Regions from separate parts of the Homo sapiens genome. Here region 1 is linked to region 2. The links come from fine-mapping of genetic effects on gene expression. A gene starts in region 2. The other region holds a variant in brackets. All regions are shown on one strand. Distances are between the middles of the regions.

Region 1 (3,003 bases), 25 kb before region 2:
AATACAAAAAAAAATTGCTGGGCGCAGTGGTGCACGCCTGTAATCCCAGCTACTCAGGAGGCTGAGGCAGGAGAATTGCTTGAACCCGGGAGGCAGAGGTTGCTGTGAGCCGCGATCGTGCCACCACACTCAAGCCTGGGTGACAGAGCGAGACTCCGTCTCAAAAAAAAAACAAAAAAACAAAAAACAATTTCCACCTCCTGCCCAGCCATTTGTCATCTTAGGAATCGCTGCAGCTGCGTCTGTTCTAGCATGCTTACAATGGTCTCCCTCTCAAATGCTTATCTGGGGAGGTCAGTGTGCCATGTACCCTGGGGAAAATAAAAGCTACAGCCCAGTTGGGAAAACAAGACAAACACACTACAAAAATAGTTAAATACAACTGGGCGCAGTGGCTCCTGCCTGTAATCCCAGCACTTTGGGAGGCCGAGGTGGGCAGATTGCCTAAGGTCAGGAGTTCAAGCCTGGCCAACATGGTGAAACCCTGTCTCTACTAAAAATAGAAAAATTAGCCGGGCATGGTGGTGCACGCCTGTAATCCCAGCTACTCAGGAGGCTGGGGCGGGAGAATTGCTTGAACCCCGGAGGCGGAGGTTGCAGTGAGCCAAGACTGTACCATTGCACTCCAGCCTGGGCAACAGAGCAAGACTCCATCTCAAAAAATAATAATAAATACTAACTGTACTGAATTAACTGTTCACCTATCAACCTGCTCTGTTGCCATCCTTTGAAAACTCCAGGAGTAGGGAAGATCCGCCCACCATCCCCAGCTGGCCTTGGGTCTGTCTACGGCACAGGTGTGAGGTCAGCAACTGGAAAAGCCCTCCCAGATCGCTGCCCTGGAGGCACTTGGGATCTGCTGCATGTCTCTGAAACATGTATAGGTATATATGTATGAAAACAATTGACCGGGCGCAGTGGCTCATGCCTATAATCCCAGAACTTTGGGAGGCCAAGGCGGGCAGATCACTTGAGGTCAGGAATCTGAGACCAGCCTGGCCAACATGGCGAAACCCCGTCTCTACTAAAAATACAAAAATTAGACGGGTGTGGCGGTGCGTGCCTGTAATCCCAGCTACCCTGGAGGCTGAGGCAGGAGAGTCGCTTGAACCCAGGAGGTGGAGGTTGCAGTGAGCCAAGATGGAGCCACTGTACTCTAGCCTAGGTGACAGAGCAAGACTCAATCTCAAAAAAAAAAAGAGAAAACAATCTGGGGCCGGGCGCGGTGGCTCCCATCTGTAATCCCAGCACTGTGAGAGGCCGAGGAGGAGAGATCACTTGAAGTCAGGAGTTTGAGACCAGCCTGGCCAACATGCCAAAAGCCCGTCTCTACTGAAAATTTAAAAATTATCCGGGTGTGGTGGCACAAGCCTGTAGTTCTAGCTACTCGGGAGGCTGAGGCAGAAGAA[C/T]TGCTTGAACCCAGGAGACAAGAGGTTGCAGTGAGCCAAAATTGTGCCACTGCACTCCAGTCTGGGAGACAGAGTGAGACCCTGTCTCAAAAATAAAAACAAAACAAAACAAAACAAAAAAACAAAAAACAATCACTTAGGTAACCCAAAATAGTGCCCATCATTTGTGAAAAGAAATACTCACTAGTTGTATTCTACTCAGAAAATGGTTGCCTTGCTTAAAAAGTTTTGCAGAAAACTGCAAAAGTTCCTCATTTCTGGTACTATTCGGTAATATATATGTAGGTTTCTTTCCTCAGTTCCCACTCTGGAAAAAAAAAAAAAAAGGAAAACGAAACTTTTTTTTTTTTTTTGAGACGGAGTCTCGCTTTGTCGTGCAGGCTGGAGTGCAGTGGCGCGATCTCGACTCACTGCAAGCTTCGCCTCCAGGGTTCACGCCATTCTCCTGCCTCAGCCTCCGGAGTAGCTGGGACTCCAGGGGCCCGCCACCACGCCCGGCTAATTTTTTGTATTTTTTAGTAGACACAGGGTTTCACCGTGTTGGCCAGGATGGTCTCGATCTCCTGACCTCGTGATCCGCCCGCCTCAGCCTCCCAAAGTGCTGGGATTACAGGCGTCAGCCACCGCGCCCGACCGGAAAAGGAAACTTTTAAAAATAGCTGCTGGTGCAACTAACTTACGTGCTCTGGTAAACAAGAAGAGATTAAAATAAAAAACAATAGCTGCCCAAATACCCCCTTTTTAAAAACTAGATGCAAAAAAAGGGAATCATCTAATCCCATATTATAAAATTAAAATTTATTTTCATTTGTTGTTGTGTAAAACTCACATGTGGAAGTGTTCCTTGCACAGGCCGCAGCATGCAATACAGTTTCACACTTCTGCCAGATATTCTATCTCAGAAAGCAAATTACCTGCAAACTAACACTGGATGACAAGTGTCACCAGAAGTGCTTTGGAAACATGATTATGTTATACAAAGACTTGGCAAATCCAACAGCATACAGTGCAACTGAAACCTTCCCCAAGGATCTGAGAAGTCTTGCCGATGGAATCCTTGGACATCAAGAGCCAGGCGAGGAGCAGTTTCCGATCTGCTGAGATTCTGCTCCGCCTTCACGCGAATCAGCATAGCCAAGTGCCCCATCCACCAGCCAAGTCCTTCAGTGCTGAGGACGCACGCATAGCCAGGACAGTCACGGGCAAACGTGACATCAAATCCGAAGGGCGGCTGTCGGCTCCCTTCCTGCCAGCCCCAGCGGGCACCCCGTCAAGTTCTCGCTCTGTAGGCAGCTGGAGTCTCAGGCTCCTCAGAACGATCACTGGGCTCTGGCACCTCTCCCCACACCTGTCTCAACCACTGGTCCGCCTCGCTCTCCTCCCTCAGGTAGCACCAGATGATCAGCGCCACGAGGAAGCAGCTGAGGGGCAGCACCTTCCACCAGGGCCGCTGATGTCCCTTTCCCATGGTATGGCCCACCGACCAGCGGTGAGGGTTGGCTTTGCTGGAGGAAAACTCAATGGGGCGGTCAGGGTCGTCCTCTTCCTCGGCGGCAGGGTGGGCCCGATCCCGGGAACCGGGCAACGGATGAAG
Region 2 (2,743 bases):
CAGCCTCGGCGGGCTGGGGGTCTGGCCAAGGGGCCCCTGTGGCCACCTCCCATGGCTTTCCTGGGCCTCTGAAGGCCGCCCAGGCACGTACAAACCCGGCCTTTTCTAGCTGGACCTGGATGTGTATCCCCCACTCCAGCGACACCCAGCGGGAGATGTGGACCCCCCACCACACCTGCCGCTGCTTTCTCGCCACCACCTCCCCGCCCTGGGCCTGTGCCCCTAGGTGTGTGGGGGGTACCTTTTGTCCAGGGCCTGCATCTGGTTCTGGAGACCAGAGAACTGCGAGGAGGAAGAGGAGGCTGTGGGCTGGACCTAGGCCCGGGTCTGGCACCTGCCCCTGGAGTCCACCCAGCTCCGGCACCACTGGCCCCTGGGAGCTCTGGGCCTGGGCAGCAGGGGTGAGCTGGGCTCCAGGCCCAGAAGCAGCTGCCCCCAACACCCAGGAAAGGGGCAGCTCGACCTGTGGGTGGGGGAGCCGCTCACCTCCGGCGCCTCCTTTTCGGGGGCCTGGGCTGCCGGCCGCGCCTCCTGCTGCAACTGCCTCAGCTCTGAGCCCTGCAGCTGCACGCGGGCCCGCACCTGGAGCAGCTCCCGCAGCAGGCTCCGCGTGGCGCGCTCACAGCGCTGCTTGTGCTCCCGCAGGCAGGCCACCTCGGCCTGCAGCTCCACCACCCTGGCCGGGGCGAGAGTGGGCGAGTCTGGCGGTGCCCGCCGTGGAGGCGGAGGCGGCGGCGACGTGGTCCTCCCCCGCCAGCACCCCCTGCAGGGCTCACCACTGCTCCAGCTGGTTCCAGTGCTTGGCGGTGTCCTGCTCGGGGACAGAGGCCGTGGATGTCGGATGGCTGGACTCATACCTCTCCGAGAGCTCCTCCAGGCTCAAGGGCTCGGGGCTGGCCAGGCCTCCTGCCAGGAGGAGCCCCAGGTCTTCCAGGGTGACGGCTCTCAGCTGGGAAGGGGCCGATGCCCCTGAGGGTCCACTGTCAGCCAACTCTACAAGGAGGCATCTTGGGAGCTTGCCCCTTGGGGCCCGGCCCCCACTGGAGCTTACGGGAACAAGGCCCCAAACCCCCGCAGGACCCTCGCCCACCACCCAGAGCTCAACGCGTCTCCTTGGGTCACACAGGATCCAGACGGGCTTGGCTCAGACAAGTCCAGGGCCCTGCCTGAAGACACACAGCACTGGGCGGCAGGAACAAGCGAGCTGGAGGGAGCCCGGGGTCAGAAGCAGAGCGGTCCCCACCCTCACACCTGTGGCAAGCCCCTCCCTGGGCCCCGCTCCTCCGCTCTGGTCACCTGACATGGCTGCTGGGCTGCACCGGCCACCCTGCCCTCGGCTGTAGCTTGGGCCTTGGGGCCTCTGAGGTTGCCCAGAGCTGGGCACAGGCCAGGGGGGTCAGGAGCCAGAGGAAGTCCCGTGAGAGCTCTGGGCCTTGAGGGACGAGCTGCTGCCCTCGTCTGGCTGCCTTCTCAGGGTCCCCAGGGAGGCAGGTGTGGGGCAGCGGGGCCGTTCCAGAACCTTCCTTCTCTCCCCAGAACCTCACGGCTTCACAGCCCAACTGCCAATGGAACTCTAGCCCTCAGCTCTCCCACTCCCGCAGGGCCCCCCAACTGCCTGCTTCTGGATGGATCTGAGGGGCCCCACTCCCGAGAGGGCGCAGACACGTGTCCTCTGGCAAAGGGGACTTCTTCAGCTGCCGAGGGAGGGGAAGGAGGCCCTGACGAGGCCTGGGCACGCCGGGAGGGACGCTGGGAGCAGGGAGGCCGAGAGCCCCAGGACACCCCGGACACAGCCAGGCCCACGTCCGAGCGGAGCCCGAGGCCTGGGCAGCGCCATCGGGGTGAGGGGCACAGCCGGGCTCCACGGGAACCCATCTTGCTCAGCAGCCCCATTAAAAGGCAAGAAGCAGCGATGTGAATCCTAACCGCTGATTTTATTTAACCGAATATATCCAAAATATGATCACTTCCAGGTCCTCAGTACACAACCACCACGAGGGAAACCCAGACCTAGGTTTCCGGCGCCGACTCTGAGGCCCGGGAGTTTTCTTCTTGCGTCACCCCAGCGTGGGCACCCCGGCCCGCCCCCCTCCACCTGGAGCGCCTCTGCCTTGCCCCCAGACCCACCAGCCAGGAGCCAGAGGAGGGAGGCTGAGGGGCGGGGACGAGGAAGAGGATGTGGCTGGTGCCCTGGGTGGCCGCAGCCGCTGTCTTTCACGCCTTTCTCACTCCACACGGTGCCCCGACCCCAGGGTCCCGAAAGTCCCAGGCTGTTGGACGTGGTCTGGGTGGGGTGGGAGGGACGACGCTGGCAAAGGCGGGCTGAGAGGATTTCTTTATTTCGCGTTCAGACCCAACACACTCGGACACCTTGGGGCCCTGTGAGGGCTAAGCAGGGTGGTGGCGTCAGCTCCCGGGGAGGCCCCACTCCCTGGGGAGGAAATACACGGCAGGGGGCCGCACCCAGCCCCCCACGGAGGGACCCGTGTTGCTCTAACAGGGACACTGAAGTTGCCTCTGCCGCCCCGTGAGGGGCCTGTGGCGGCCCCAGACCCAGCCCAGCCAGGCCAGAGGAGCCTCCCAGGGGCCCTCAGGTGGTGAGGTGGGGGCTTCCCGGCCCCGGTGCCCACCGGCCCTTCTAGCTGCCTGTGCTGGGCCAGGTGTCCTCTGAGGCCGGCAGGAGTCTGGCCCCCGCTGCACCTGCGCTTGGTGGCTGGCAGGGGCGGGGTAGGGAGGTCACCCT

Evidence for each region. PIP is the estimated chance that this variant, and not a neighbour inherited with it, causes the effect.
Region 1: its variant is fine-mapped to the expression of CCDC154 in putamen (GTEx, PIP 0.92).

What each region holds. Positions count from the first base shown.
Region 1 is chr16:1,417,567-1,420,569 of GRCh38, forward strand. UQCC4 (ubiquinol-cytochrome c reductase complex assembly factor 4) reads right to left here. Exons shown (of 2, transcript NM_001272051.2): 2 at 2,186-3,003. The coding sequence ends at 2,680. Among named protein-coding and RNA genes, the nearest start is that of UQCC4, 1.7 kb to the right of the region's middle. RefSeq lists enhancers at 2,472-3,003, 2,815-2,884, 2,895-2,944. The variant C/T (reference allele first, on the strand shown) is at 1,410.
Region 2 is chr16:1,443,020-1,445,762 of GRCh38, forward strand. It overlaps CCDC154 (coiled-coil domain containing 154), which reads right to left and starts at 1,537. Exons shown (of 17, transcript NM_001143980.3): 1 at 1,297-1,537; 2 at 777-993; 3 at 487-676; 4 at 242-282. The coding sequence starts at 1,303. It overlaps CLCN7 (chloride voltage-gated channel 7), which reads right to left. Exons shown (of 25, transcript NM_001287.6): 25 at 1,916-2,743.